2 linked regions of the Homo sapiens genome follow. The protein of the gene in region 2 purifies or fractionates together with the protein of the main gene of each other region. This does not show direct contact. Each region holds a gene or a part of one and is shown on either strand. Other genes may lie near its edges.

Evidence for each region.
Region 1: the proteins of PTTG1 (region 2) and DECR1 purify together in Homo sapiens (affinity purification with mass spectrometry; 4 studies listed by BioGRID and IntAct, with this or other methods). This does not show direct contact.

Annotation. Positions count from the first base shown.
Region 1 is NC_000008.11:90,039,387-90,046,687, reverse strand, and holds part of DECR1 (2,4-dienoyl-CoA reductase [(3E)-enoyl-CoA-producing], mitochondrial isoform 1 precursor), read right to left. Parts: intron 3,961-7,301; coding exon 3,888-3,960; intron 1,840-3,887; coding exon 1,693-1,839; intron 1-1,692. UniProt on the Homo sapiens protein: Auxiliary enzyme of beta-oxidation. It participates in the metabolism of unsaturated fatty enoyl-CoA esters having double bonds in both even- and odd-numbered positions in mitochondria.
Region 2 is NC_000005.10:160,424,729-160,429,414, reverse strand, and holds the end of PTTG1 (securin), read right to left. Parts: intron 1,701-4,686; coding exon 1,542-1,700; intron 814-1,541; coding exon 734-813; 3' UTR 676-733; downstream 1-675. UniProt on the Homo sapiens protein: Regulatory protein, which plays a central role in chromosome stability, in the p53/TP53 pathway, and DNA repair. Probably acts by blocking the action of key proteins.

The sequences.
Region 1 (7,301 bases), on a different chromosome or scaffold from region 2:
CTTCTCTGTATTTCCTGAATTTGAATGTTGGCCTGCGTTGGTAGGTTGGGGAAATTCTCCTGGATAATATCCTGCAGCATGTTTTCCAACTTGGTTCCATTCTCCCTGTCACTTTCAGGTACAATCAGACGTAGATTTGGTCTTTTCACATAGTCCCATATTTCTTGGAGGCTTTGTTCATTTCTTTTTACTCTTTTTTCTCTAAACTTCTCTTCTCACTTCATTTCATTCATTTGATCTTCAATCACTGATACCCTTTCCTCCACTTGATCGAATCAGCTACTGAAGCTTGTTCATGCATCACGTATTTCTCATGTCATGGTTTTCAGCTCCATCAGGTCATTTAGGGTCTTCTCTATGCTGTTTATTCTAGTTAGCCATCATCTAATCTTTTATCAAGGTTTTTAGCTTTCTGGCGATGGGTTCCAACACCTTCCTTTAGCTCAGAGAAGTCTGTTATTACCAATCATCTGAAGCCTTCTTCTCTCAACTCGTCAAAGTCATTCTCCGTCCAGCTTTGTTCCGTTGCTGGCGAGGAGCTGCATTCCTTTGGAAGAGAAGAGGCGCTCTGAATTTCAGAATTTTCAGCTTTTCTGCTCTGGTTTCTCCCCATCTTTGTGGTTTTATCTGCCTTTGGTCTTTCGTGATGGTGACATACAAACGGGGTTTTGGTGTGGATGTCCTTTCTGTTTGTTAGTTTTCCTTCTAACAGTCAGGACCCTGAGCTGCAGGTCTGTTGGAGTTTGCTGGACGTCCACTGCAGACACTGTTTGCCTGGGTATCACCAGTGGAGGCTGCAGAACAGCAAATATTGTAGAATGGCAAATGTTGCTGCCTGATCCTTCCTCTGGAAGCTTCGTCTCAGAGGGGCACCTGGCTGTATGAGGTGTCAGTTGGCCCCTACTGGGAGGTGTCTCCCAGTTAGGCTACTCGGGGGTCAAGGGCCCAGTTGAGGGGCCAGTCTGTCCGTTCTCAGATCTCCAACTCCATGCTGGGAGAACCACTACTCTCTTCAAAGCTGTCAGACAGGGACATTTAAGTCTGCAGAAGTTTCTGCTGCCTTTTGTTCAGCTATGTCCTGCCCCTAGAGGTGGAGTCTATAGAGGCAGGAAGGCAGGCCTCCTTGAGCTGTGGTGGGCTCCACCCAGTTTGAGCTTCCAGGCTACTTTGTTTACCTACTCAAGCCCCAGCACTGGCGGACACCCCTCCCCCAGTCTCACTGCCACCCTGCAGTTCTATTTCAGACTGCTGTGCTAGCAGTTAGCGAGGCTCTGTGGGCATGGGACCCTCTGAGCCATGCGCGGGATATAATCTCCTGGTGTGCCGTTTGCTAAGACCATTGGAAAAGTGCAGTATTAGGGTGGGAGTGTCCTGATTTTCCAGGTACCATCTGTCAGGGCTTCCCTTGGCTAGGAAAGGGAATTCCCCAACCCCCTGCACTTCCCTTAAACCTCTTTTCTTTATAAATTACATAGTCTCAGGTATGTCTTTAGCAGTGTGAGAACAGACTAATACATCACTGAATAAATGTCATAGGCTAAACAATATATATAATATTTTATATTATTTACAACTAAATACATATTTTAAATGATATTTACATTCAGCATTGTCAGGATTGGTTCCACAACAGACCTCCCTGCCCCAAACACACTCCTGAAAAAAAAGTGAAGAGAAATAAACAACGCTTACTGCTCCATTAATCCAAGAAGCATAATCACTACAAAGGAAAGCAGCAAGATTTGCGAGTTCTTCTACAGTCCCCAGGCGACCACAGGGAATTCTGCCAATCATTTCTTTCTCAAATGTTCCAGTTGGGTCCAGACGGCTAAAGGCACCCTTAGAAATTAAGAAAACAATTAGGTTGTGTCGGGTTTTTCAATCAATTCCTTTCCTACTCAAGAAAAAATGTGTATAAAATGGCATGCTGCCATGCAGCTTAAAACCTTAGGCTTTGTAAGTAAAAAAGAATTTCACCAAATTATTCTTAAAAAAAAAATAGATCACTGGAAAATATAACCCTTTTAATCTTAGTTTCTTCTATGTAAAATGAGGATATCTATCTTAGTTACCTCACAAAATTGTTATAAGCATCAAATGAAAAAATGTATATAAAGGTATCCTGAAATATGTACAAGCTTAGGTGGTAAAGGCAGTGGTATTACTGGCTTTTCATTTAATAAACACAGAAAAGTGGCTCATAGGAAATATTTAAGAGGAAATTCCTTTTCTTTCATCCCAAAGTATTGGAAAAGGAAGAAAACAAGTAGGTAGAAATTCAATTAGATTCTAGAGAGAGAAAAACTACAACTAAATTGGCCAAACAATTTGCTTTCTGTCAATGATGTGAAGGAACAGACCAAGATGAATTATGGATGTGCACTGATTAATAAAAACAACTGGATTTTTCTGTACTAGTGCCTTGAAGTTTAGGTGGCAGTTTTCCTCAATAATGCAGCCATAAGACAGAACAAACACTCAGGGGACTCCATGACAGACCTCCAGTTCTTCCCAGGAGGTTATAAAGCCCAGAGACAAGGGGTTGCAACTGGTCCCAGTCCTGGTTCTAAAAAGTGCATGCTAGGGAGTTTCTACACTTCAGTTTTCTTTTAATCTCTTTAACAGTAAGTAGTTATTATTTGGGTACAACTCCTATCTCAGTGGCTAGACTGTAAACTCCTTAGTGGCAAGCACTTTCTCAGAGATACTTCTGTATCTTTCTCAGTACCCGTAGATACAGTGAACAGTCAATAAATATAGGTTAAATAAATAAAATGCAGGTGATTTTTCCCTAGATATTGGGGTCTTGGAGAGAAGCGTTTGTGTCTATAAGCCTATTTTCAGATATGCTTAGGACAGGGCCACCCTGAATCATGTGTTTTAATGTATGTTTTTAAGTTTCTTTCCACTAATTTTATTAGACTGTTTAGTATTGAATTGTCAGATAAATAAGATAGTCAACAAGTTTCAATCACTCAGGAAGTTTTTGTTTCTATTTCCCATCCTTTAAACTGCTAAATAAACTAATATGGCCATTTCCAAGTTATTTTTAATACCCAGAGCTACCTATAACCCAAAAGTCCTTTAGTATTATTTTCCAATATGTTTACACAACTGAAACAAGTTACCAAATTTTTCCTGGTCTTTCAACATTACATCTGGTTGGCATTATAAATACTTGCTTTAGGTGAAAACCAAGAGAAGTGTGAGTGAAGTTATTTTGGGATAATGAGAGAGCAGAGAAGGTGTGGATATTCTGAGCAACATCTGTAACAACATTAGAGATAATTACAAGTTGCAATGAGTATCCACAAGGATTATTACTTATAGGTGAAATCTATGCTGTCAGAAGGACTTATAATCAGAGACATGTGGGCGTTAGATGACATGCATAATTGACTGAGAGTGAAAGGGCACAAGCATGAGTCAAGGAAAATGCTACCTACCTATAACAAGACAAAGCCTATATAATAAGTTACCAAAGCATCTCTCAAACTAAAAATATAGTTACATTTCCTTGATTTTTTTTAAAAAAGGATGTCAGACAATGTAGGAGCCTTTAAAATGTCATGAAAGTTAACAAATACAGGACAATAACAGACCACTGAAACAAATCAGACAAAGTGCCAACATTGATGGTATAAAAGATCCCAAACGATTAAGACACTGAAATTGACATTATGAAGAAATTGCATAGCTGCTATATTCCTGCCCGCCTCCTTATTTCTTATATTCGATAATGAATAAAGGCAAAGGCCTCTTCCCTAGAACCAGGGCTCTAAACCTAGGCATCTCTGGAAAGTCCTTTACACAACAACCAGAATATACCTATCAGTGTTTCATTATTTAATCATTCACAATGTGATAACAAGCAAAATACAACTTACTTTGGTTTTTATAGGCCCTGGTTGAATCACATTGAATCGCATTCCATATTTACCCCATTCAGCTGCAAGAGACCTAAAAATTAAAATCAACAACATACATTCTGAAATATTATACCATATGTTAAAGACAGTAATAACTGAGACTCACTAGATGCTTACTACATGCCAGAGATTACAACCCCAACAGGTAGGTACTATTATTGTTCCCTATATTACAGATAATGTAACTAAGGCACAGAGAGGTTAAATCATTTTCTCTATGTCATATGGCCAATTTGTCAATCTCAAGAGGTCTAGCTTCAGTCTGTACCCTTAGTCACTCTACTGTACAACCTAACCTTTACATTTTAGTGTCCTTAACCACTATGCTACACCACCTACCATTTGTAGTTTAGAATATATACTTTTGTCCAATGTCAATACACATTTTTAGAGTAGGTATTCATTATTCACATAAAAACGTGAGTGCTTCATGCCCTTCCCTCACATTTTCTGGAGTTCAGTCTTGTAGTTACAAAGTTCATTATAACTTTACTCATAGCCCTGTACATTGGATTACAATGTCTGTAATATCACAAGTGCTTTATTTGAGTAAAAGAGTACATCGATTGAAAATATAAACCACATCCATGTCTAACTAGGCTTTAATATAATTGTTGAACCAAACTTGAAAGGAAATAGGAATCTAACAAAATCTTGCTTAATGTCCTGAAGAAAAATATAACACTAATAGCAAACAAAGAACTTCAAAGGAACTTGTTTTAAAAGCTTACTTTACAGGTAGCTCTTTTAAAATCTAAATTCATTTTAGGAATTTACATTCATATGTATATTTGTGTGTATATATACTTAATGTAATTTCAAATAATGACGAGGTAGCTTAAAAGAATTCATATAATGCAAATGAGGAAGACAGGATAATTTGAAAGGAAGAAGGAAAGAAAAAAAGCAAGATAAAGAGAGAGAAAAGCCAGGATAACGAAATATAACGGAGCCAAGAATGAGGCTAATATCTAAATGTACTGAAGTGTGTGATGTTCCATATAACTGCAATAGTCACATCACAAATTTGTATCTATTCTTCCCATGACTCTATACAAAAAAGGTAAGCCTAATCAGTTACACAATCCACAGTACCCATAAAGAAAAAGCAAGCTAATTGCTCAGGAAAAGCACAATTGTCTCTAATACGAAAAATGCTTTAAGTCTTTCTAGACTTACAAAAGGAAAATTGTACAGTATAACAATCTCCTTAAGACACTGTATCCTTGCAATAGATAAAATGGGCTAAGTTCAAACTTGACAAATGGGATCTAATTAAACTAAAGAACTTGTGCACAGCAAAAGAAACTATCATCAGAGTGCACAGGCAACCTACAGAATGGGAGAAAAGCTTTGCAATCTATCCATCTGATAAATGGCTAATATCCAGAATCTACAAAGAACTTAAAGAACTTAAACAAATTAAACTTAAACACAAACAACCCCATCAAAAAGTGGGGGAAGGATATGAACAGACGCTTCTCAAAAGAAGACATTTACGCAGCCAGCAAACTATGAAAAAAAAAGCTCATCATCACTGATCATTAGAGAAATGCAAATCAAAACCACGAGATACCATCTCATGCCAGTTAGAATGGCAATCATTAAAAAGTCAGGAAACAACAGATGCTGGAGAGGATGTGGAGAAATAGGAACACTTTTACACTGTTGGTGGGACTGTAAATTAGTTCAGCCATTGTGGGAGAGAGTGTGGTGATTCCTCAAGGATCTAGAACTAGAAATACCATTTGACCCAGCCATCCCATTACTGGGTATATACTCAAAGGATTATAAATAATTCTACTATAAAGACACATGCACACATATGTTTATTGCAGCACTGTTCTTAATAGCAAAGACTTAGAACCAACCCAAATGCCCATCAATGATAGACTGGATAAAGAAAATGTGGCACATATACACCATGGAATACTGTGCAGCCATAATAAAGGATGAGTTCATGTACTTTGCAGGGATGTGGATGAAGCTGGAAACTGTCATTCTCAGCAAACTAACACAGGAACAGAAAATCAAATACTGCATGTTCTTACTCATAAGTGGGAGCTGAACAATGAGAACACATGGACACAGGAAGGGGAACATCACACACTGGGTCTGTCAAGGGGTGGAGAGCTAGGGGAGGGATAGCATTAGGAAAAATTCCTAATGTAAATGACGGGTTGGTGGGTGCTGCAAACCACCATGGCACATGTATACCTATGTAACAAACCTGCACATTCTGCACATGTATCCCAGAACTTAAAGTATAATTTTAAAAATGCGCTAAGTTCTATGAAACTATCAGACATCCGTTAATAGTCTTATAGCATCATTTCAAAGGCCAATTCAGTAAAACCAGTTCTACAGAATAGGGTACACGTAATCTCAAGATAGCCTGTTAATCTGACTTAATCCATGAATGTATTTTAGAGAAATGGGTGGGCTGTATCTCTTTCAGACAGAACATACATAAAAATTGCTTCTCTGAGTGATGTTTTTGACAAAGTTCATTGCCATAGCTACCCTGGGCATTTATTTATAGTGTATCTACTCTAAATTGCTTCATGTCTTAATAGAATTACTGTACTGAGCAGAGTCTATATTATCCTATGAAAAACTGAGCAACCTGTTAAGAAAATCTGCCTAGAGGAAAAGCCATCCTCTCTGTGCTCAGAGGTGTGCCAGATACATTTGTTCAATTGCTAGCATGATCTTTCAACTGTCATTAAGCTAGCTGATATACTGAAGAACTACTGTAATCTGATAATGAATCCACCTCATACAGTTATCTCTGCATGTTAAGATGCTAAGAACAATATATGCAATATGTTAGCCATTATTATTGCTCATTCAACCAATGTTTATTATATACTTACCATGTGTCAATACTATAAATATTGCTTAGCCTCAAATAAAGTCAGTCCCTGCTCTCAAATGAGAGTCCCTCCCTCTCAAGAGAGGTGAGCCTGGTTATATAATGAATCAGTTACTAGGCTGGGAATTGTGTGATGTAAGCTATACCTGCTTAAAAGAAGAAGAACCTAAGTGGGAGTGACAAGGAAGGCTTCTCTGAAAAGGTAACATTCTGAGCTGATGGGTGAAGAAGGATTAGGAGTTTGCTGCAAGAGGCAGGGGAAAGGAGGAGCTGAGAGATTAAGAAGGTAGGATGGTGACATGGTTTGGCTCTGTGTCCCCACCCAAATCTCACTCTGAATTGTAATAATCCCCACATGTCAAGGGTGGGACCAGGTAGACATAACTGAATCCTGAAGACAGTTTTCCCCATGCTGTTCTCATGATAGTGAGTGAGTTCTCACAAGATCTGATAGTTTTATAAGGGGCTTACCCCTTCACTTGGAACACATTCTCTTT
Region 2 (4,686 bases):
AAAGAAAACCTATGAGCAACCATTTGCCATCTCTATTTTGATTCCAACCTCAGAACTGAGATCAAAATACCAGCTCTAATAATTTTCTAGCTCTTCACATCTTTGACAAATCAATGAACTTCTGCGCTTCATTGTCTTACCTGGGAAAGTGTCAAACATTAAACATAATAATGCTTCTCAAATACTCATGTCCAACACAAGGTAAACAACTAAATACAGTTTCCTATAGGTGGAGTGTAGACCTTACTATCAGTAAATTATCTCCAGTGATCTTTAAGGAATCTAATTGAAGATCCCAAGGAGGCTGAATTCTCAGATTTAGAGCCTTTCAATACTGAGTATTAAAGTCATTAGAAACTAAGTAGAACCGGCAATAAAGAATGCCCAGCAATAGATACTTAATGAGTTGGAAGTAGCTCTTCTAATTAAGAGATCTAATAACTGTCACTAGTTAATGGCCACAAAAAGTCAATAAAGTACACATTGAGGGGTATACTTTTCAGGAAAAAACAGTGGCAGCTTCTAAAATAAGCTGTTAAACCAAAAAGATTTAAGTTTTTAGACATCAGACAAATCTCTATTGTCACATTATAGACTCTTTGTTAAACACCTCAGCTAGCTTTCATGTTATTTTAAGTAACCTCCATGGAAAAGCAACCACAATACTAGGAAGAATCTGTTAAAGAATGCTTTATTAATACAAATACACACAAACTCTGAAGCACTAAGAAATTTAAATATCTATGTCACAGCAAACAGGTGGCAATTCAACATCCAGGGTCGACAGAATGCTTGAAGGAGACTGCAACAGATCTAGAAAACAGGAATCTCTTATTAAAATTTCTGCAAATCCTTGAGTCATTGTCCATATCAACATAGACATTAGCTGTCAATCAAAAATTCATGTTTTTCCCTTTGTCAAATCAATCACCTGCATCCCCTCCTGACACATTTTTTGGAATGTGTCTGTGGCCCCAGAATTGACTTTCATTAGGAAGTAAGTTTTAGAAGTATCTGAATCTCTATTGTTCTTAGAGACCAAAGTAAGAGTTAACAGTCTCACTAATGTAACTTATTAGGACAAATTATCCCACATCAGAACAAACAGAAAACATAATGTTGGCTTTGACTACCAGTTCAAACGAAGACCTCAGACCTTCTGCAGTAAGAAGTTATTGTCAGTCTATGCTACAGCACAGGTGTTTTGATCTTATATTAGCTTTGGATATAACATGGAATCATCATTCCAAGCAAGTTTATTATATATGCTTCAACTTATAGCCTAAGAAGATGTAAGTGAGAATTAATCTTTTGGCTGTAGTAAGACTATCCAGTTTCCAGAATAACAATTTTACTGGGGCATTTGGGACTGAAAAGCAATATTAATCGAGAATAGTTTATTTTTCTGAAAACTAATCCTTGTCATTTGAAGGACAGAAATTACTCACAGGCTCACCTCCCGCACAACTCTTCCCATGGTAATGGAAGTGTTATGAAACAAATTGTTTGCAGCCCTTCCAGAAGGGCACTTGCTCACTTACTGGATTCCCATGGTGGAGAGGGCATCTTCACAGGTGAAGGGGGGCCCAGCTGAAACAGCTTTTCAAGCTCTCTCTCCTCGTCAAGGATCATGAGAGGCACTCCACTCAAGGGGAGGTGCGCAATCTGGTGCTCTTCAGGCAGGTCAAAACTCTCAAAGTCTGTTACAGAGAGAAAGCGTTTTTGTCAGGGCAGCAGTTCTTAGTGTGGGCTGTAGATCCCTTGTGGTCTGAGACCCTTTGAGGGGGTCCATGAGGTCAAAACTATTTTCAAGACAATATTCACACCTTTTTCCACTGGGTTGACATTTGTAATGATGGTACCAAGGCAGCGGTGGAGAAAGCTGCTGGTGCCTCAACACAAATCAAGGCAGTGACAGTAAACCATATTAGCAGTCTCTCTGTTCTGCATCCTTCTTCGCTTGTAGTTTAAAAATGCCAGTTTCACTTACTGTCACTTCACCATATGCAGTAGAAAGTATTAATTTTATTAGCTCTCCATCCTTGAGATGTCTTTTTAATGTTCTGTGTGATAAAATGAGAAGTATGCCATAAAGCACTTCCACTGTACACCAAAATACGATTAAAAGGATTTGTGCAACTATATGAGTTGCAAGCTAAAACTAGAGAACATTTTCCTGGAATACTGTTTTTACTTGAATTAACAACTGCAAGAAATCCCATGGTCACTCAGACCTGGGTGCTTGTCACACTTTTTCTTAAAGGAATGAAAGAAGTCTATCACCTCAAGGAAAACTGACAGCCTTTGTTGCCAATGGCAGAATATAAAACGTTAAAATTTTGTCAAAAATTAAAAAATGAATATTTTTTTTTTGAGACAGAGTCTCACTCTTTCACCTAGGCTGCAGTGCAGTGGCACAATCTCCGTTCACTGCAACCTCTGCCTCCTGGGTTCAAGCGATTCTCCTGCCTCAGTCTCCCAAGCAGCTGGGATTACAGGTGCGCCCACCACACCCGGATAATTTTTGTATTTTTAGTACAGACGGGGTTTCACCATGTTGGCCAGGCTGGTCTTGAACTCGTGACCTCAGGTGATCCGCCCGCCTTGCCTCCCAAAGTGCTGGGATTACAGGCGTGAGCCACTGCATCTGGCCAAAAAAAGGAATTTTGGAAAACTTATCTGCAGTCATTAGCTTGACAGGTGCTTAGACTTTTCTGATGAGATCAGTTGTGGTATTAATGTGCTTTTGATATTGTATAATAAAGCATCTCAACATGTGGGTATCTACATATCTCAGTGAACCAGTATTTCTGAATGGTCAATGCAAGATAGATGCAAGAATATAAGATACATTCCAAGTGCAAAATAGACCAATGGATTTTACTGTCAAGATACAAAATGCTCATTGATACGGTTTCAGATTCCACATTGCAATTTTATATTCAGAAACAGCCACTTGTGGGTTTTAGTGTAGTGGCAAAAAAACCTATCCACACTTATCTGAAAAGACTATTAAAAACGTATCTGTGTGAAGCCAGGTTTTCTTCGTATATTTTAACAGATGTAAGAGTGAATATAGAATTTGATAAGAATCCAGTTGTCTTGTATTAAGCCAAATAAAGCAAATTTTCAAAAATATAAACCATGCCATTCTTCTCCAAACTTTTCCAGAACAAAAAATATTTTATGTTAAAAAAAAATTTACATTAATGTAATGTGATTACTTAGTGAATAAATATCTTAAGTTTCTCAGTCTTAATTTCTAATACAGAAAAGAGCAGATCACACAAGCAAAAGTGGTCTTCAATAATTTCTAAGAGTGTAAAAGGGTCTTTAAAACAAAACAAAAAAAAATGGAGAACCATTGTGTTAGGTAACATTCATTCTTAAAATCCAAGTACCTTACTTCTTAGCAATTATTTTTAAAAAGTGATTTTTCTGTACAGTAACAAAAGTAGGATTTAACACTGAATTTTCTTCAAGGAGCTGTTTTCTCAAAAGATTAGAAAATCATGGTTTTCCTTATCTTTGTCCGTAGGTGTGAAAGTTCTCTAAAGCCTAAGTACTCAAGAATTAGTCTGCTCTTTTACAAGCCTGGTAAAACCCAGAAGTCAAAAAGGAATTGAATGATATGTGACTATTTAACTTAAAACCACTGAATTGTAAAGGAAACCATAGACAGAAGACTCCAGAGGAAAGAAGTTTGCAATATAAGGGGAGCTAATTTTATCTACAAAGAGCTCTTTAATCAAAGAAAAACACAAACCGGAAGTTAATAAAAAAAGAAAAACTGTAAGTGGCCAATAATCAAATATGTTCACCATACACACAACAAATTTAAAACAATGAAATATTTCTTTTCTGATAAAGATTAGAGTTTTAAAACATTGATAGTGAACCTGGAGGAAGCAGACATCTTCATCCACTGTAGACGGATTTAACAATTTACACTATTTTGAAGGGCCACTTAGCAATATCTCTTTCCTGTAACACAGGATATTGTGGTCTTCATTCTTCATCAATATGCATAAATCTACCTCATTTTCCTCAATGGCTGAATGGTAATTATTAGCACGGATGCACCACATTTTATAATTTTAAAACTTAATCACACAAGCCCTTGAACTCAGCAATCCTTCTCAAAGTTTCCCTCCAGATGTACTCACAAACTTACAACAAGATCATTTCAAGAATACTAATCATAGAAATGTTTGTAGTTTCTAAAAGCCAGAACAATCTGAATGCAAATTAGTAAAATAACTACATGACCTCTTTGGCTAAATAAAAGGGTAAAAGATCCAGCTCAGAAATCCGTAAGGCCCTCCCTGATCTGATCCCACACCTCACCTGTATCCTCCTTTACCCTGCCTGTATTTTTCCTAGAACCACTTTAGTCTCTTTTCCTACCTCACGATCTTTGCACCACTTTGACCTACAATGCTGTTTTTTCTGGCTCACTCACAGTGAGATGACTTGTCCAGCATCTGACTTTCCCTTCAAATTATGGGCTCCCATAGGCAGGGCCCATCTTGTTAAACAGTGTGTCCAGGACCTAAGGATGCCTGACACACAGTAGCTTCTCCTGAAATGGTTGAGTAAATTAAAGCTTGAAAAGCTGTTTCCAAAACAGAAAATACTTCAGATACATGTAGCAGGTTGAAGAAATTTGAAAAACATGTCTTCACT